Homo sapiens: one gene and its partners. The protein of the gene in region 1 purifies or fractionates together with the protein of each later gene. This does not show direct contact. Each region holds a gene or a part of one and is shown on either strand. Other genes may lie near its edges.

Region 1 (7,108 bases):
ATGGCCCCCAGGACACAGGGATTCACTCTCTTCCTTTAAATCAAAAGTTCTCTCAAAGACCAGAAGTCCTGTTTTTCATCTAATTTTGGAAAGTTTCTCCTATGGCGCTCATTCTCTCTCCATTAAAAAAAATCTGTCATCCATTTCCTTTAGCAATGTGTTCTAATAATTAAAGCTGAGAAACTGTCATGCAGCAGAAGAAATAAAGGGAGGAGCCTATCTCCCCTCCCTACCAGCTTGAAACACCTGCAAGAAGCGAGTCAGAAACCAGTCTCCTCACTCCTTGTCCCTAAGGATGTCCCAGGCCTAAGGCCTCCCGCAGGGTCCAAAGGTAGAAAAACAGGAGGGTCACCATGGTGTCGGATAGTATGGCTGGAAGGAGCCACCAACCCAGCCTTCTAAGCCAGATAGGGTGAGTAATGTACATGTGTGTAGGTGTGGTGTGTGCCTGCGTTGGGGAGGGTGTACGCAAGTCTAAGCTACTGCTACACAGAGAACAAAACAGAGCAACAGCCACCTTCATAAACCCCGCCAGTGTTCCCTGTGTAGTTTATGACCACAGCAACCCCAAGCATCTAGACTCACAGGCTTTCAGTGGACTGCTCTCAAGAGCGCACTCAAGCTGGCAGCTTCATGGCTCAAGGGGTCAATAATGAACACACTCGCCAGATTCTCAATGAACTACTGACCTTAAGTGGAACAACAAATTCCCCTCTCTGCTACCTAAAACACAGTGTGTGGTCTAGGCAGACCCACTGTGACCCCTTCACACCCTGCCACTGGCCCTCTGGAAATGAAAGGCTTTGGGATCAACCCAGTCACCAGCAGAGATCCAAGGAGCCCAGGATACTGTCCCCACTGCAACACCAGCCTCGAAACTCAGGACTGGGAGGGGCAAAATACAGGTAGGGCGAACCATGGTCTCTCCCCTCATCCTCAGTGGCCTGAATGCCTGGGCTGGAAGCTGCTGGAAATTAACGGGCAGCTTGGGCTTGGGTCCAGTGAGGCAGCACTGTACTCACCACAGCCAAAAATAACATTCTGCCCAATTCTGCCCAATTCTGCCCAATTCTATCCCATTGTGAAAGCAGCAGACGGCAAGGACACACAGAGAGTAACCTCTATGACCAAGAGCTCCTGGGAGGTCTGGGTCTCATCTTTTCTGTCCCAGGTTTGAGGACACTGTGCAGAGCTCAAAATATCAGTCAAGCTGAGGTGAGGTCCCTATCCACTGCACTCTCTCTAGGCTCCACCACACCTGGGCAGAGGGGCAACTCCACTGTACCCAGAGGGAGTCAATAGGAGCCCCACCGGGCAGAGGAACAGGATACCAGTCCTAAATACTGTATCCCAGTATTATTGAGTCCCCAAAGGCTCTTAGTGTGACAGTCACCCCCAGTGTCTGGTAACTGATCTCAAGCCCTCTTCTGGCTGATCTCAGAGACAGGAAAGACAATTATTGGTCGTGACAAACAGCAGCACCCAACACGAAGCTGCAAAAACTGTCTCCAGAACTTCATAAAATTCACACATGTACTCCTTAGGACAAGGACCCTCCTGACCCCTGACCTCCTGTACCTGTCTTCAGGACCACCAGGTGTGCAGCGTCATCCCGAACATAGGAGACGGCGGCGATGTCATGGATGGGCACCCTGAGGATGATATCCTCCCCGTCCCTCCAGGCCAGCTTGACGTTGTACGCAGACAGGCTGAGCACAGCATCGTGCTCCTGAGTCAAGTGTCCCGGAAGCTGGTGGGCTCTCTGGAAGGAACCACAGGGCATCAGAAATACAGACTCAGCTGTCAACCGGCATGGGGCGCTTCTCCTGAGAATATTGTGCTGGCCGATGTCACACATGTGACAAATGCTGAGTGAATAAGGTCAGTGTTATTCCCCTCAGAACAGTGCTTATTCCAGGGACACCAATGTGTTCAAACCATTTGGGAGATTCTTCTGGAACTGCCTTCAGATTCAGACTTACGGCACATGGTTTGAAATATCTTGAAAGTGTAAATTTTGGAAACAGCCCAAAATCACATGGAGCAAGTGTCGAGAATCAACTTAATGTCCATACTAAGGAATAGTCTTTATGGCCAAGAGCCAAGTGTACCCATAATGTGATGGGACTGGCTCATTCCTCACAGCCACGAGGCCAAGAGTACAGGGACCAAGGGCTGGTGGGGGCTGAGGGCTAGTGCACAGGGTTAAGAGGATAGGGTTACCTTTGCATTGTCTATGAAATGCAGGATTTCAGTCCTACTGGAGGGATTCAGGTATCCTGGTATGGACGTTAACTGACCTAAATACTGAAAGAAAGTGAAGAAAAAAATGCCATGAGAAATGGGAGCTGAGCCAACACCACCATCACTACCACCGAGAGCACAAACCAAGTGCTTCATACTCAGGCCACCAGGCCCATGGGTCTCCATTCCGGCTCGCGTGGAGGCCCAACTCTAGGAAGAGAGTCCTGGGTTCTTACAGAAATCTCTACTGGCTGAGGACAGTGCTGCCCCATCTCCTACTATTCTACAGTGAAGGTCATCATCAAAAGTCCTGCAATGAGTATCCCAAACTACTAGTACCAAAACTACTAGTTTTGGTAGAATCTGTATTCTAAAACAGGGATGGTCAGGGTTTTCTCGTCACTGCTGGGGAAACTGAAAACAATGGCATCATGCACAACTTCACTAAAAAATAAACTTCCTCAATTGCAAAGGTCAACATAGCTGAGAAATGAGCATAAATAGAGAAATGAAGTGCTATGGTTTCAATGTGTCCCCCAAAAAGCATGTGCTGGAAACTTAGTCCCCACATGCAACAGTGTTAAGGGTGGGGCCTTTAAGAGGTGATTAGGCCAGGTGCGGTGGCTCACGCCTGTAATCCCAGCACTTTGGGAGGCTAAGGTGGGCAGATCACCTGAGGTTGGGAGTTCGAAACCAGCCTGACCAACATGGAGAAACCCCGTCTCTACTAAAAATACAAAATTAGCTGGACGTGGTGGTGCATGCCTGTAATCTCAGCTACTCAGGAGGCTGAGGCAGGATAATTGCTTGAACCCGGGAGGCGGAGGTTGTGGTGAGCCAAGACTGCGCCATTATACTCCAGCCTGGGCAACAAGAGCAAAACTCCATCTCAAAAAAAAAAAAGAAAGAAAAGAGCTGATTAGGCCACGAGAGCTCTGCCCTTGTGAGCACATTAATGCTGTTATCCTGGGAGAGGGTTTGTTATCTCAGGAGCAGGTTCCTGATGAAAGGATGAATTTGACCCCCTTCCCTCTCCTGCCCTTCCACCTTTCGCCCTGGGATAACATAAGATGCAGATGCAGCCCCTCACCAGCTGTGCCCTTCAACCTTAAACCTCCTAGCCTCCAGAACGATACGATTTTTTTTTTTTTTTTGAGACAGGGTCTCACTCTATCACACAGGCTGGGGTGCAGAGGCGTGATCTTGGCTCACTGCAACCTCTGCCTCCCAGGCTCAAAGCAATTGTCCCACCTTAGCCTCCTGAGTAGCTGGTACTACAGGTGTGTGTCACCACGCCTGGCTAATTTTTGTAGAGACAGGGTTTTGCCATGTAGCCCAGGCTGGTCTCGAACTCTTGGACTTAAGCAATCTGCTCACCGCAGCTTCCCAAAGTGCTGGGATTACAGGTGTGAGGCACCATGCACAGCCTAGAAATATCTATTCATTATAAATTTCCCAGTCTGTGGTATCTGTTATAGCAGCACAAAACATTTAGTAAAAAGGTTTTTTTGGTCACACATGGCCATGAGGCACTTGGCTTAGCAAACCTCCATAATGCAGGGCCTCAGGTGTAGAAGGCTGTGGGCAGCAGCACTGTACCTGCTGTGCTCCTGCCTGCATCTTACCAACCACCATAACATTTTCAATGTTTCTGTTTTTTAAAATGGGTTGCTGATTCTTCCCAAGAACAGGCTTCTTGCACTCAACATTTCTCAGTTGTTCATTACCTCACACAGTTAAGTTCTCTATTAAAAAAGAATGAAATGGGACTTTCCAATTTCCTGTCCAGCTTGTAAAGGCTCAGAAGTCATCACTCCCATCCTCACAACAAGAAAGCTGGCAAACTTAAAATCAATGACTGTTCTCAGATCCATCAGATAATTGAGGTCACATGAAAAAACAATAACCCCAAAGATGGAGAGACAGATATGCAATGCTAAGAATCACAGCTCATTGCGGGGCAGAAACCCTAGAGCCAGCACCAGCAGAGAGGAAAGGGGAACTGACAAATGGCAGAGACTGAGCATGGACCAGTAGGAGACAAAAACTCCAGGGGAATAGTCACTGGGGAGGTCCCCATACCAGTCTGAGTTTTACCTCCATGAGCCCCACCAGGCTCTCAGGGTGAGACTGGAGAAACATCTCCTCATACTCTGGTAGGAGGAGGGAAGAATACATCATTTAAAAGTATAACCAGGCCAGGTGTGGTGGCTCATGCCCATAATCCCAGGACTTTGGATGGCCAAGGCGGCAGGTTTGCTTGAGGCCAGGAGTTTGAGACCAGCCTGGGAAACATGGTGAGACCCTATCTCTACAACAAGAACAACAACAGCAACAACAACAACAAAATAGTTGGGCACGGCAGTGTGCCTGTGGTGCCAGCTACTCAGGAGGCTGAGATGGGAGGATCATTTGAGCCCAGGAGGTTGAGGCTGCAGTGAGTCATGATGGTGCCACTGCACTCCAGTTTCCCAACCAACATATAAAGGGCTCAGAGGTCATCTCAAAAAAAAAAAAAAAAAAAGAAAGAAAGAAAGAAAAAGGCATGACCAGAGCATTCTGTTATCCTTAACAAAGGGCTTTCCTCAAGGAAAACTATTTTACCAGAGCCTAACCACCTAGGGGTAAGGAAACACCCAATTCCTGCCTCCTCTATCGTTTATGTCTCTCCTAAGGGGGAGGAAAAAAACAAAACTGAGAAGCACATGTGAAGGCCACGGCCCAGGGACACAGGTTCACTAAAACACTGAGACCTAATCCCAGGACTACAGAACACTTCCTCTCCCCTGAAAGCCACATCAACAGGACCCCTGTGTAATAACAGGGATGCACACCTATAAGAACTGCAGGCCTCAGACTCTATTTAAGAAGGAATCTTGAAGAAAACCCAAAAACAATGGAAGACAAAAACAAGGATACACAGGAGATTTTTATCCCCCAGCATCACAAGGGCAGCAAACAGTAAACACAGCCCAACTCCCAGCCAGCCAAACGTACCTCACACTAAGGCCTATTAACCTGACGCCTAAGTTCCTCATATCAGAACCAGACTCAGACATAGTGGAGATTTTGGAACTACCAGATTGGGAATTTAAAACAACTACGATTAATATGGTAATGGCTCTAACGGAAAAAGTAGACATCATGTAAGAACAGATAGGCAGCATAAGCAGAGATGGAAACCCTAAGCAACAATCAGTAGGAAATGCCAGAAAGCAAAAGTCCTGTAACAGCAATGGGGACTGCCTTCAACAAGCTCAAGAGGCTGGACACAGCCAAGGAGAGACTCTCTGAGCTTAAGAATACGTCAACAGAAACTTCCAAACATGAAAAGCAAAGGGAAAAAAGAACGAAAGAAAGAAAACAGAATATGCAAGAACTGTGGGACAGTTACAAAAAGTGTAACATATGTGCAATGAGGATATCAAGAGAAAGAAAAGAACACAATAACTATTTGGAGTAATGAGAGCTGAGAAGTTCCCCAAACTAATGTCAGACACCCATCCACAGATCCAATAAGGTCAGAGAACATGAAACGGTAAAAAGCAGGTAATTTACACTGAGGCAAATCACATCAAACTGCAGAAATCAAAGACAAAAAGAAAATTAGAAAGGAAGATTCTCTCTTTGCAGAAATCTGGGAATTTTTTCCACAGGAAAAAAACATCCTACCTATAAAATGGCAAGAACAAGAATGACACTGGATTTCTCTTCAGGAACCATCCAAGCAAGAAGAGAGAGGAGGGAACTATTTGATTCTGTATCCAGTGAAATTATCCTTCAAAAGTGAAAGAGAAATAAAGATTTTTATCAGAAAAACAAAAACTCAGGGATTTAACATTTCAAGAAAAGTTAAAAGAACTTCTTCAGAGAGAATGAAAATGATTTGGTCAGAAACTCTGATCTATGTAAAGAAGGGGAAAAGCATCAGAGAAGAAATAAATGTAGGTAAAATTAATCTTTTATTTTTCTTATTTTAATTGCTCTAACACATTAACAATTTGTTCAAAATAAAATTTGTGTATTGGGTGACTGTAGCCTAAGGATAAATGAAATAAATGACAGCAATGTTATAAGCAGTGGGAGGAGTGAACTGGGAATACTTGGTTACAAGGTATTTGCACTACCTGTGAAGCAGCACAGCATTATTTGAAAGTGGATTTTGATTAGTTGTGAATGTATATTGCAAACCCTAAGGCAACCACTAAAATAAATATATATATATACACACATACACATTTTTGAGACAGGGTCTTGCTCTGTTGCCCAGGCTGGAGTGCAGTGGCACAATCACAGCTCACTGCAGCCTCAACCTCCCAGGCTGAAGCGATCCTCCCACTAGTAGATGAGACTACACGCACATGCCACCAGGCCCAGCTAATTTTTGTATTTTTTGTAGAGACAGACGGGGTTTTGCCATGTTGCCCAGGCTGGTCTCGAACTCCTGAGCTCAATCAATCCGCCCGCCTCGGCCTTCAAAAGTGCTGGGAATACAGGCATGAGCCACCGCACCCAGCCTGTATTTTTTGTTTTTTCTTTCTTTCTTTCTTTTTTTTTTTTTTAACAGACAGGGTTTCGCCACATTGCCTAGGCTAGTCTCAAACTCCTAGGCTCAAGTGATCCTCCTGCCTTGGCCTCCCAAAGTGCTGGGATTACAGGCATGAGCCACCATGCCTGGCCAAAACTTTTAAACAAAAAATCAGCAAATTGAATCCAATAATGTATTAATAATTATACACCACGACCAGGCAGGATTTATCCCAGGTGTGCAAGGCTAATTCAATGTTCAAATATCAATCGTAGCGGGGGCAGTGACTCATGCCTATAATCCCAGCATTTAGAGAAGCCAAGATGGGTGGATCAC
Region 2 (5,620 bases), on another chromosome or scaffold:
TAAGGTTTTAGTGAGTCGTAAGAGGGAGACTTTGATTCCACTTCTTAGTGATTACTTGGAGAAAACCCCAAGTAACAGCCAATGAAATAATTTTTAGATTTTTAAGAATATAAGCTGGGCGGCTGGCACGGTGGCTCATGCCTGTAATCCCTGCACTTTGGGAGGCCAAGGCGGGTGGATCACCTGAGGTCAGGAGACCAAGACCAGCCTGGCCAACATGGTGAAACCCCATCTCTACTAAAAATACAAAAAATTAGCCGTGCGTGGTGGTGTGCACCTGTAATCCCAGCTACTCAGGAGGCTGAAGCAGGAGAATCGCTTGAACCCGGGAGGTGGAGGTTGCAGTGAGCTGTGATTGCTCCATTGCACTCCAGCCTGGGTAACAAGAGCGAAACTCTGTCTCAATACAAAAACAAACAAACAAACAAAAAACCAACAACAAAAAAAGAGTATAAGCTGGGCAAGTACCTGTAGTCCCAGCTACTCAAGAGGCTGAGGTTGGAGGATCGCTTGAGCCCAGGAGTTCAGACCAGCATGGGCAACATAGTGAGACCTCATCATTAAAAATATATATATGGCTGGGCACAGTGGCTCACGCCTGTAATCCCAGCCTTTTGAGAGGCTGAGGTGGGGGGATCTTCTTGAGCCCAGGAGTTCAAGACCAGCTTGCACAACATAGCAAGACCCCATCTCTACAAAAATTTTAAAAATTAGCCAGGCGTGGTGGTGCATGCCTGTGGTCCCAGCTGCTTGGGAGGCTCAGATGGGAGGATTGATTGAGCCCAGGAGGTTGAGACTGCAGTGAGCTGTGACTGTGCACTCCAGAGTGGGCAAGAGAATGAGATCCTGTCTCAAAAAATTTAAATTTAAAATAAAATTTTAAAATATATATGTTGTTTGTTTGTTTTTGAGATAAGGTCTTGCTCTATCATTCAGGCCAGAATACAGTGGCATGGTCATAGCTCACTGCAGCCTTGGCTCTTGTTACTAGGGCTACAGGTATGTGCCCCATGCATGTCAGCCTAATTTTTATTTTTATTTTTGTAGAGGTGGGGTCTTGCTATGTTGTCCAGGCTGGTCTCAAACTCCTGGCCTCAAGCAATCTTCCAGCCTCAGCCTCCCAAAGCCTAAGACTACAGGCACGAGCCACCATATCTGGCAAGAACATAGACTATTTAGGAATGAAGATCTTTGGCTAAAGCCACACTCTTCCTAGATACAAAAGTAACAGCAGTTACATAACTTATCTAAAAAGAAAAAAATCATATGACTAAAATTCTATTTGAAAGAAAAATTTTTTTTTGAGATGGGTTCTTGCCATGTTGTGCAGGCCAGCCTCGAACACTTGGGCTCAAGTGTGTAGCTTGGACTACAGGTGTGTACTACCATGCTTCATTGAGAAATTTTAAGCCTAACCTCCTAACTGGATTTAGCAGGGCCTTCATGTATTTTAATCGTGGCAAGCCACTTTTTAGCAGTTGTCTTCCTTTTGTTTTTAACAGGTCTCTTCATAAAAAACAATTCTTTTCACTACAGACTCGCAAAACAGCTAGTTGGCTGGCAGCAGAGCTCTCAAAAGAAGGCCACCAGGTGGCTCTGCTGAGTGGGGAGATGATGGTGGAACAGAGGGCTGCAGTGATTGAGCGCTTCCGAGAGGGCAAAGAGAAGGTTTTGGTGACCACCAACGTGTGTGCCCGCGGTGAGCAGAGGACGTGTCCCACCTGGTCTGCCAGGCTTGGGGTCCCAGGCCCAGTTAGAGCCAGAAATCCTTGTACACAGGGAAGTCGGATGGTCTCAGGGAGATGGGTGGGGTTGGTGACACTATTCCTTTCTAGGAGAGACTGTTTGGATTTCCCTCAGGTGATAAGAACTCCCACAGAAGCCAGGAGTCCTGACTTGGTGGAAGGAAATGTACAGGCATCTGACTGGTAGAGAACAGAGCCTGCTCTTCCAGGGATGCCCATCTCCAGAACATTGTGTCTCCCAGAGGCTTACTGACTGATTTCATAATTTTGTTGGCACCTGCCAAAGTTTTGTTCTTTTCCTCCAGGTTCTGCTGTATGCCTGTATGTGCCCTCTCTTGTACCCAATTCCCAGAGTTGGCCTGTCCCAAATGTATTTATTTATTTTTTTGAGACAGAGTCTTGCTCAATGGCCCAGGCTGGAGTGCAGTGGCACAATCTCAGCTCACTGTAACCTCCGCCTCTCAGGTTTAAGTGATTCTCCCGCCTCAGCCTCCCGAGTAGCTGGGATTACAGGCGCCTGCCACCAAGCCCAGCTAATTTTTGTATTTTCAGTACAGATAGGGTTTTGCAGTGTTGGCCAGGCTAGTCTTGAACTCTTGACCTCAGATGATCTGCCTGCCTCGGCCTCCCAAAGTGCTGGGATTACCGGTATGAGCCACCGCACTCGGCCCCCCAAATTCTTTCCCTTTACCCGAAGTTGGTATGCATTGACTTACCTGTGGACAACAGTGATTTTTGTCTCCTGTCCTTACTTCTCTCTGTCTCCAACTCTCAGGGACTCATTCATCACCTCTCCCTGCACCCCACCCCCTGACCCGTGCTAGTTTGGTATCTATGCCTGTAGCTTTGCTTTGGGGCATCATCTGAATCTCATACTGCACGGCCTTTCAGATCTGGCTTCCTGCACTCAATGTCATGCACGTCTCTTAGTGCCGTGTTCCCTTAATGCTGAGTCATGCTCCATTGTATGGATGGACCACATGACTGATTTGCCTCCTGTCCTTAGTCCTCTCAGCCTCCAACTCTCCTTCCTGCAGGCATTGATGTTGAACAAGTGTCTGTCGTCATCAACTTTGATCTTCCCGTGGACAAGGACGGGAATCCTGACAATGAGACCTACCTGCACCGGATCGGGCGCACGGGCCGCTTTGGCAAGAGGGGCCTGGCAGTGAACATGGTGGACAGCAAGCACAGCATGAACATCCTGAACAGAATCCAGGAGCATTTTAGTGAGTCCCGGGGAGGGTCCTGTGCCTGGCGCCCTTTGCTAAGTAGGGCGGGGTGGTGAAAGGGGTAGGATCTTCTGTAGCCCCAAGAGAGGCTCTGTCCCTAGCACACTCCCCTCCTTTCTGACCATATGGCAGTTCTCAGGGAGCACACCTGGAGACTTCAGGACCCAGGGACTCCAAGAACAGCTCCCCTGTGACTGGGCTTCGGGGCGTGGGGCTCTGACTGTTGCTGTCAGTGACTAGGGGCCCTGCTGCCCCCTGCTTAGGCACCCGGAGCCTTTGGGGCTGAATGAATGATTGCTGTGGCCCAAGATGGGGCACATTCCTGGGCAGGGTAGAGACCTGTGTATCTTTCCCCCAGATAAGAAGATAGAAAGATTGGACACAGATGATTTGGACGAGATTGAGAAAATAGCCAACTGAGAAGCTCCACCAGCCACTGATGCCAGCCCTGGCACTGCCCCTGCACAGGAGACAAGTGCGTTCAGGGCACAGGCCCCGACATCACCCCAAGGACAACGGCACAAGTAGAGAGAAACTACCTACCTCACTTCAAATTATGTTTGGACTTGACAAAAATGTATGCAAATGATGGGGGATGGTAGAAAAAAATTATTTACACAACCTTGGAAGATTAGGCATGAATACACAGAGATTTACCTTTTGGAAGTTTCATCTTTTAATTTGGCCAGTGTTTCCTTCATGCTAATCTAGATGCTGTGGCTGATTACTTGCCCAGGATCTCCTGTGGCAGCCTCTGCTTGTTCTCTGGCTTGGAGTGGATGGGGCAGCCTCCAGCTCCTGTGGAAGTAATGGAATAGTGGTGGAAAGGGAACACAGAGAGGGAGGCTTCCAGTAAGATAGGTGTGTAAGCCCAGCCATCATGTTTGGAATGGCATGAGGCAGCAGAGGAGGCCTGAGAGCTGCTGCTTTGGACTTGGGGGTGGGACAGCTCATCTGAGTATTGCCAGCCCCCTGTCCTAGTGCCCACAGCAGAAGGGAATTTGTTAAATAAGCATGGACCAAAATGCCAACCTCTCGGTTGTGTATATGGGTTTGTGTCACAGGACTGTGACCTGTTCTCGGTGGGTGCAGTCTGTGTAGAGTGCACATCTGATTATTGGTGGGTCCTGTGCCTGTGCTTAAGCAAGTCCTGTGGAGAAGTCATCATGGAGAATTAGTGGTGGCCCTAGCGTGCCACAAAACCTGGTCTCATGAGCATTTGCAACATCCCTTTTACATCCTTAATATCCCCTTACCCCACAGTAGCCCCAAACAAATGTGATCTGAGGTTTAGATCCTCAGTGAAAATTGTGGTTTCAAGTCTTCATGGCCAGCCTCAAGGCAGTTCTAGATGTGATCAGCAGTAGTCACAAATTCTTGTTTTGTCTCCACACCCAGAAGGCAAGTTTTGTCAGAGCTGGGGAATAATTTCAGATATTTGACATCTTGATTATAAAGGGCTTCTGAACATCTGTGTTTACTGCCTTTGGAATACAAACAGGTGCAACTGAGGGACTAGCTACACTACCACCATTTATCTGTCCAAGGCAAGAGTATCACCAAGGCCTTTGCTCCAGCCTTACTTGGCATCTTTGCGCAAGATAGTCAGAGCAAACAATAGTAATGGACACTTCTCACACCTGGCCAAGGCTGTTGGTACCCACGAAATGACAGCAAAGATGAGAGGAAACTGAATTGCAAGAGCAATATGAAACCCCAACCAAGAGGAGTACTCTGCAGTTCTTTGGCTTTGGTATAGAGTGGCCACTTTCTCTAGGACCTGGAAGAAGAGTTTGATGGCTAAGAACGATTGTGATCCTAGGTCTTCTTTGTACGCATCTCCGTATTTAGGCCAGATCTGCCTCCTGGGAAGGGAAGGGGCCAATGTCAGCCTCCAGGTGATTTCTTTAATCTGACATTACAAAGAGACCAACAGACTGCCAATTCTACCACATTCCCCTGGTGGGTACTCGACTATGTAGTTTTCTCTATGCTTCTGGTCAACTCTGACACATCTTGGAATTCTTGTAATAAGAAAAGAAATTTTTATACTTTTTTCTCCTTCCCTGAGTCCTGTGGACCAACCCTGAAATACTAAAAACAAGGGCAATAATTAAAGAAGTATAGACTCTTTAGTAGGCCACAGGCAGAGCAGACTCCCACCTTCTCAAGCACATACAACCTCTCTACTGGTGTAGCCCCAAGTGTGAGAAGGAAAGTGGGAAGCGGGGTGCTGCAGACTCTTTGACAGCAGGAGGAATGGGAATCTGGTAGAAGTATAGGTCAACAGTTCTTTTTTTTTTTTTTTGGAAACGGAGTCTCACTCTGTTGCCCAGGCTGGAGTGCCGTGGCACGACCTCGGCTCACTGTAACCTCTGCCTCCCAGGTTCAAGCGATTCTCCTGCCTCGGCCTCCTAGGACTACAGGTGCACGCCACCGCACCCAGCTAATTTTTGTATTTTTAGTAGAGATGGGGGTTTCACCATGTTGGCCAGGCTGGTCTTGAACTCCTGACCTCAAGTGATCCACCCACCTTGGCCTCCCAAAGTGCCAGGATTACAGGCGTGAGCCACCGCGCCCAGCCAACAGTTATTAATCAGGGGTCTTGGACCTCTAAGAATTCACTGGATGGGTTTCATGGAG
Region 3 (7,807 bases), on another chromosome or scaffold:
TCAACTGATGGTGATAGAATAAATGAATATCCTTATACCAAAAAAAGAACTTTGATCCCTACTTCACTGCAAACACAAAAATGAATTCAACATGATCACAGATCAAAATGTGAAAGCTAAAACGATATAACTCCTAGAAAATAAACCTGCCAAAACATCTTCACAGCCTTAAGGTAGGCAAAGATTTAAGACACCAAAAAAACTAACCCTTAAGGAATAAAAAAACGATAGAGTGGACTTCATTAAAATTAAAATTTCTGTTCATCAAAGGACACTATCAAAAAAACGAGGCAGGGCATGGTGGCTCATACCTGTAATCCCAGCACTTTGGGAGTCCAAAGTGGGTGGATCGCTTGAGTCCAGGAGTTCAAGACCAGCATGGGCAATATGGTGAAACCCTATCTCTACAAAAAAATACAAAAATTAGCTGGGCATGGTGGCATGCAACTTGTATCCCAGCTACTCCAGAGGCTGAGGTGGGAGGATTGCTTGAGCCCAGGAGGTTGAGGCTGCAGTGAGCCATGATCACACCACTGCACTGTAGCCTGGGCAGTAGAGCAAGACGCTGTCTAAAAAAAAAAAAAAAAAAAAAAAAAGAAAAGAAAATGAAAAGTTAAGTCACAGATAAGAATAGTCATATATTCACAAGGCATTTATGTGAGAAAGCTCTTGTTTTGAGACAGTATAAAGAACTCTCAATTAAACAAGACAAATAATCTGATTATGGGCAAAAAAAATTAGAAGATACTTTTAAAAAGAACATATATGAATTGCTAAAAAGCAAGTGAAAAGGCACTCAACATTATTAGTCATCGGTAAAATGAAAATTAAAACCACAAGATACTATTTTACACACACTAGAATGGTTCAAACTAAAAGGACTGATAATACTAAATGTAAGTCAAAATGTAAAGTAGTTGAAACTCATTTTTTTTCTGGTTGAACGTGCAAACTGGTACAATCACTTTGGAGAACTGTTTGGCAATTTCTCACAAAGTAACATGCACATCTATCCTATGACCCAGAAATTTCACTCTTAGGTACTTACCTAAAAAGAAATGAAAATGTATGTCCAAAAAAAGATTTATACAACAGTGTTATGACAGCTGTATTCATAATAAGCAAACTCCAGAAACAAGAAAAACATCCAGCAATAGGAGAACAGATAAATGAATTGTGGTATATTCATACAATGGAAAACTTAGCAAGAAAAAGGAATGGACTACTGATATATGCAGCCACATAGATGGAACGTGAATCTGAAAAATATTATGGAAGGAATGCAGCCAGAAACAAAAAAGTATATATTGTATGAATCCATTTATAAGTAGTTCAAGAAATGGCAAAACTAAGTCCAGCAAAGTTAGGTTTCTTTTTTTTTCTTTTTATTTTTTATTTTTTGAGACGGAGTCTCTTTCTGTTGCCAGGCTGAACTGCAGTGGCGCGATCTCAGCTCACTGCAACCTCCGCCTCCCGGGTTCACTCCATTCTCCTGCCTCAGCCTCCTGAGTAGCTGGGACTGACTAAAGGTGCGCGCCACCACACCCAGCTAATTTTTGTATTTTTAGTAGAGACAGGGTTTCACCATGTTGGCCAGGATGGTCTTGATCTCTTGACCTCGTGATCCGCCCGCCTCAGCCTCCCAATGTGCTGGGATTACAGGCATGAGCCACCCGGGTACCTTGCCTAAACAAAGGAGAGTAGTCCAAGGGAACTGTGAAAGGCCCCTGCATGAGAGGAAGGGAGGGTTTGTTGTGTGTGTGTGGTTTTTGTTTTATTTTGGTAGGGTTTGGGTTCCTAATTACTCTACAAGGTGCACCAGAATTGGAGATATTTGTCCAAATTCATAAATTTTGAAAGAGAAAAAGAAATACATTCAGAGTACTATTATTCCCATTTCAAGATTGAAGAAATTCAGATTAAATTATTCTAATTTCGTGAGGAAGCTAGCATTTGAACTCAGTTCTCACGCCATATTCCAAATTGCCACACCAGATATCTGGCAGATTTAGGGAAGAGGAAAAAATTAAGCATCAATCTACCTGTGGCACCGTGTAATACCATTCTCAGGATTTTAACTTCTAACTTACTCTCTTTGAAACAGCGATCACAAAGGAATAGACAAGGGGACCACAAATCATTAAAACTGCTGTCAAACAAAATAGAGAACATTTTTCCTAAAAGTTATTTGTGTAGCGAATAACAAGTTTGACGTTCTCACTGGAAGGAAGAATATGAATAAATGAACGAGCTCCAGTAAGAAGTCTACAACCTGTCTTAGTGGTTCACTAAACTCACGTTTATTGAATGATTGTGTGGTTTCTCTGCAAAGAGCAGTTTTGGACGAAAAGACCCGAGGTTATTTACAAAACAAGAAGCTCACATAGGAACTGATCCAGTAAGGAGGATCCCGAAGAGAGACAGACAAATCATTTTTTGCATTGTTTTGTTGGAAACGCCGGGCACTGCCAACAGTGTTTTACATCACTGTTCCTCAAATTTTAATGTGCATTTGATTCCTGGAAATCTTGTTAAAATATAAGTTTTGATTCCATAAGTCTGGTGTGGAGCTGAGACCCTGAATTTCTAAAAAGCTCCCCAAAGATACCCACACTGTCAGTAGGGGTGGGAGTGGCGGAGCCGACTACAGGGGAAAGCTTCACTTTGAGTGATCGAGAGGCTCTACGCAACTGGAAAGAAGAAACTCAAAATCCCTCGTACAGAGAGAGACTCACCAGCCCCCGACCCCCGGGCAGCAGTAAAGCGAGCTGGGCACTGCGCCTAGAATCCCAGTTCTTACCCCAGGATCAGAAGCGCGCTCTGCAGCTGTCCCCGCACCTCCAGAAACACGCGCGTCTCCGCCGCAGAAGCCGCCATGGCAGGCTTCCAGTCCCAGACCGGACCAAGCTGGAGGTTCCGAGGGGCCCGGGTCAACAGGACCAGGAGAGGTTCCACGTGCGGACCAACCAGCGGCAGCCCCGCTGCGGCGCAGGCGCCTGTGCCAGATCGCAGGGCTGGCGCCGCCTACCAGCTCACAGCGCCACCTGCCGGCCGGAGAGTGCACCACCGAGAAGGCGCGTGACCCCGGAGGCCGGGGCGGGGCGCGCATTTTCAAAACCAGGCTTTGGCCCAGAGTGCTGAGAAAGGTGGGCGGCGAGAGGCTAGCTATCGCCCCACTCTGCTTCTTATGAGCGTGACTTGGCGCGTTAGCATCCCTGGAAATGACCATAAAAATCAGACCCAGGGTTCACACCTTTGGCTAGCTCGAAGGGAGGGAGATGATGGAGGCAAGTGTTACAGGTGGGCTTTGTCCCCAGGAGATGCAAGAACAGAATTCCCGGCCCCAAACCCACTTTATCTTGGTCTCTTTATGAACAAGGGTCGTTTGTTAGCCTCTATCTAAAGCGACAAAATTTTCAAGAATTGACTTGCCATTGCTTCTCAACTTAGACAGGATAGCTCCAAAATTGAAACAGGTGCAAAAATATAAGGAAGTTCTTTGTTACCTAATGCAGAAGAGTGTGGCTGAAGTCTATCAGGACTAACCATTTTTTAGGGGGTAAAAAAGGAAGATGAGAATGATTACGTATGTACAGCTCCACTATTCACTTTCACAAAAGTAAAAACTAAGAGAAGTTGGAGAAGTTTACTACCAGAAGATAGTTTTGAAAAGTTTGACACAGTAAAGAACCTGGTATAATGTAAATACTTATAATGAAGAACTATTAAAATATAAGACCGGGTAGAATTACAATAGGGCTTCTTAAAAACAAGGAGCTGCTTTTATTTATTTATTTTTTTTCGGAGTCTCGCTCTGTCGCCAAGGCTGGAGTGCAGTGGCGCGATCTCGGCTCACTGCAACCTCTGCCTCCTGGGTTCAAGCGATTCTCCTGCTTCAGCCTCCCGAGTAGCTGGGATTACAGGCGCACGCGCCACCATGCCCGGCTAATTTTTCTGTTTTTGGTAGATCCGCCCACCTTGGCCTCCCAAAGTGCTGAGATTACAGGTGTGAGCCACCATGCCCAGCCTAAACCATAAATAAATTCTAAATAAATAAATCCTGTCATATATTTTAAGATAATAGCTTGACAATTTTTCTAAAATCAGTATTTGGGGTGATTAAAGTTTATTATGTTGATGCACAAATTATTATATCTATCACAATAATTTGAAGTTATAGATGGAAGCAACAACTCACTTAAAAAAATAAAGTTTACTATTATTTGGTCTCAAATAATTCATCTATTTGAAGGATGATGATTTCAACTCTTCATATCTTCCACCTTTAGTACCCGAGGCTATTGAATGCTTAAATATTGACACATTATATTGAAATATACAACTTCCGTAGCACAACTTACTCTTTATAATTGTTTTGTTAGCTTAAAAGATTTTTATATATTTAGTTACGTATTTGTAAAAACTTTCATTTTTTTACGGTATGGTGTTGGCAAAACGGTGCAATTTACCTTGGAGTAACTAGATATGATTGATAGAGCTCTAGACTCAAAATAGTTCCAAATCTGACACCAACTACTTGTCTCCTAACTTCACAAGTCTCCTAACCTCTCTGGGATGCAGGTTACTCATATGAAATATTGAGAAACTATTCAAATAATATTTAAAAGCTGTTTTCAGTTCCTATTATCTCTTCAAATGAAAACATCTGCTAACCCCCTTTCTAGCCACTCCTGAAATTGGTAGCCATGGCCGCTTCCCGCGACAGTCCACTTGAGGGCGCTGTGGCAACAGCTAGCGCCGGGAGGCAGGAAGCCGATCGGGGGCGGGGATCGAAGGCCTCAGACGTCGACGCCGGCGTGGGCGCGAGCACGGTGCACTCTGGGAGCTGTCACTAGGCCCTTCGGCTCCCGGTCTCGGTGTAGCTGCCGTGGTTGCCAGGAGAGCTGCGCCGGCGAGAAGCGGCCGAGCCAGCAGCAGGTAAAAGCGTCCCTGCCCCCAGTGCGGCCGCTAGGCTGGTAGCCGGCTCCGAGCATCCTTCTCGGCCCGGCTAGGTCCTGAGCCGCGGGGACGCCTTGCGAGTCTGACTGCTGTGGCGTCGGGGGTGTTGCCGCTCCGGCCCCGCCAGGAGCTGCGAAGCTGGTCGGCCGCCCTCTGGTTTACGGGGAGTCGGGAGCTGCGCGGGGACTGGAGGGCCAGGGCTGGGGCCGGGGCCTGGGCCGGGCAGAGGCGCGAGGGCGGCCCCAGGTGAGGGAGGCCGGAGGCGGGGCCGGGGAGCCGGGGACAGGTCCCGAGCCTCCCCTGCTGGGGCGGAGCGGTGCGCAAGGCTGGGGCAGAGGTCGCACCTGTGCGATGGAGGCGTGCGGAGTACCCTCTTTGTTGAAGGAATCGAGGCGTTGTGCCTTCTCGGCTGGTGGGTTCTTTTAGCATTGAGGAGACACGTAGGCCCGCGATGGTTCATGTTCTCCGTGGGGCTTAGAAAGGAGTACCGAAGTTTATTAAGAGGAAGTCAGAAGAGTCAAACGGGTGTTGTTAACAATTATCACCTTTGATTCCTAAGCCTTTTAAAGTTGCAACATAACAATAGTCACTTGTTCGGGCCTCCTCCATTCCTGTACCCTGAGGGGGGCGGGGAATGGCACACAACTATTTTTCTTAAGCTAAGTAAATTGTGTTTGAACATTTTTACACTATCTTAGAGTTCTATGGCGTTTGAGAAATGTAAAGATTGGGAAAATGACTTCGACTCCAGCTAAAGCAGTCAAAAAAAATGATAATTACCAAAAATGTAGGAAACTGTTTGCCTGACAAATAGGCCCTGAACTGTAGAGAGAGAAAAATCTGTTTTGATGTTGTTGGCCATTGTCTATGCAGACATAAGTTCTCACATTTTAATTTTGTTTGTGGGTATTAATATGGTCTACAGTGAATAACATACGTCGGCATTATGTGCTAAGTAACTCACCACCTGATAGATAACACAGTGATTTAGGTGGGCCGACTGAAGTTATGAGTAAATTAAAACCACGAGTAGTCTAAATGCTTTATTTTAGTGATTACTTTCGGCCACAACTGATAACTAAATCATTCTCTGTAATTGTTAAGCAGTAGCAAATCTCCACGTGGGCTTGATTATTAGGTACCTAGTGCTGAAGGAACTAAAAACACCTGATTTAATACACAAACCAGAAAATGTGACACCATAACCCAAATCTTAAATGTAAGGTAAGTGTTGTCAGTTAAATGTTTGTATACATTCAAAGAAGTCCTATTTTGTAGTTAAAGTAAAGGAGTGAGCTCTGGCCTGGGAATGAAGAGATTAGATTCAAGTGCTTTAATCTGCTACTAACCAGGTGTGATCTCCAGGCTTCGGTTTTGTCATTGTTTAAGGAAATTTGAAAAGACCAGGGTTTTCCAAACTGATGTTTCCCCCAGAACAGTGTTCTAAAACCATTTAATAGGCTTACTTTCCCCAAAGCAGTGTTCAATGGCAAATAATTTGGGAGCACACTAGGTTAAACTAGGTTTAACTTTTTTGCTTATAAAGGCAGGACTCTTCAAAACCTTTACTGTTATGCTGATACATGTAAATCTCCAGAAGGTTATCCTAGCATTCCCAAATTTACCTGATCTATTTTCTCATGGCCAAATGGTTAACAACTCTTAGAATATAATTACATAGAATATAAATTTAAAAACTGCTGTACTTAAGCTGAGTCCTCTTCAACTGTAAAGGTCCATGCATTAGGCTTATTTTTTGGCTGTCATTTTAAACTTTTTGGAGCATGAAGATCTAGTGGCAACTCACTTGTATAAAAAAAATTATATTTTTCTTAGTAAAATATTAATGATACACTTAAGTTCCCATGAGTCTTAATGCTTTAATTATTGGCAGAAGACTTATCTTATTCTTTCTGGTTTTTTGACTTTTTTAAAACCATAATTCATGTTTTGAATTTGATGGTGGAGTGTAGTTATTGATTTTATTCAAAATGGCATTTTGAGGTTCCAACAAGTGAAGACTTGTTGATAATGGCATCACTTTTGCTGTGATGATTTCTCCTTATAGTCATGCATTCCTAAAATGAAATTATGGTAGAAGCCACCCAAAATGTGCTTACTGTGTAATAACTACCTATTTTAAGAGCTTATATCATGGAAAAGAGCTAAAGGCTAAAACACAAATTTTGAGACAGTTACTTCTAAATTGCTTTACAAACAGGATGTGTGCTGAACACAATCTTAAACTGTTTTGCTAAAGTCTGTTAAGTGTCACTAGTACACCACCAGTGTGGATATTCTGTTCATTCTTTATTACTTTCTTAGGGTGAATGCTGTTAATGCACAATTTTGCTTGCAGATAGGAGAGGTGGGAAGAGAACATGTAATTTTAATAGATAAGCGTTAATTCAGGTAAATTATCTCCCTGGAATAAAACTATTAAGTAGAAATATAAAGCTAATATTTTTTGTGTAATAGTTAACAGTTTTTATTGAGAATTGTATGAAAATATGATACCCTTGTCTTTAACTGGCGGTTTCCCTTTTTCCTTTATTGTATTTACTTCCTCCTCTCCAAGCTATCCAAGCCTGAAATCTCAATGACCTTTCATTGCATTGGTCAATTATATAGTATCAAATTTATTAAGGAAAAATTTATATATACTGATGTACATTCATTTAAGTGTACATTTCAATAAGTTTTAGTAGATATATATGCACCCGTGTAGCTACCACCACAATCAAGATTTGGAAGATGCCACCACTCAGGCACATATAGTTATACTTTTACTCTCTGAGAATGTTCTTCTGTTTCTGAGTGTCTAAATTATACCTTTAAGACCTAGCTC

The links. Proteins that work in one complex are often made in the same cells at the same time.
Region 2: the proteins of CCM2 (region 1) and DDX19B purify together in Homo sapiens (affinity purification with mass spectrometry; 2 studies listed by BioGRID and IntAct, with this or other methods). This does not show direct contact.
Region 3: the proteins of CCM2 (region 1) and UBE3D purify together in Homo sapiens (affinity purification with mass spectrometry; 2 studies listed by BioGRID and IntAct, with this or other methods). This does not show direct contact.

Annotation. Positions count from the first base shown.
Region 1 is NC_000007.14:45,059,117-45,066,224, reverse strand, and holds part of CCM2 (cerebral cavernous malformations 2 protein), read right to left. Parts: intron 2,308-7,108; coding exon 2,224-2,307; intron 1,763-2,223; coding exon 1,579-1,762; intron 1-1,578. UniProt on the Homo sapiens protein: Component of the CCM signaling pathway which is a crucial regulator of heart and vessel formation and integrity. May act through the stabilization of endothelial cell junctions. May function as a scaffold protein for MAP2K3-MAP3K3 signaling.
Region 2 is NC_000016.10:70,330,186-70,335,805, forward strand, and holds the end of DDX19B (ATP-dependent RNA helicase DDX19B), read left to right. Parts: intron 1-1,536; coding exon 1,537-1,699; intron 1,700-2,782; coding exon 2,783-2,974; intron 2,975-3,335; coding exon 3,336-3,397; 3' UTR 3,398-5,120; downstream 5,121-5,620. UniProt on the Homo sapiens protein: ATP-dependent RNA helicase involved in mRNA export from the nucleus.
Region 3 is NC_000006.12:83,062,842-83,070,648, forward strand, and holds the start of UBE3D (E3 ubiquitin-protein ligase E3D), read right to left. Parts: upstream 3,001-7,807; 5' UTR 2,878-3,000; coding exon 2,801-2,877; intron 405-2,800; exon of another isoform or gene 312-404; intron 1-311. UniProt on the Homo sapiens protein: E3 ubiquitin-protein ligase which accepts ubiquitin from specific E2 ubiquitin-conjugating enzymes, and transfers it to substrates, generally promoting their degradation by the proteasome.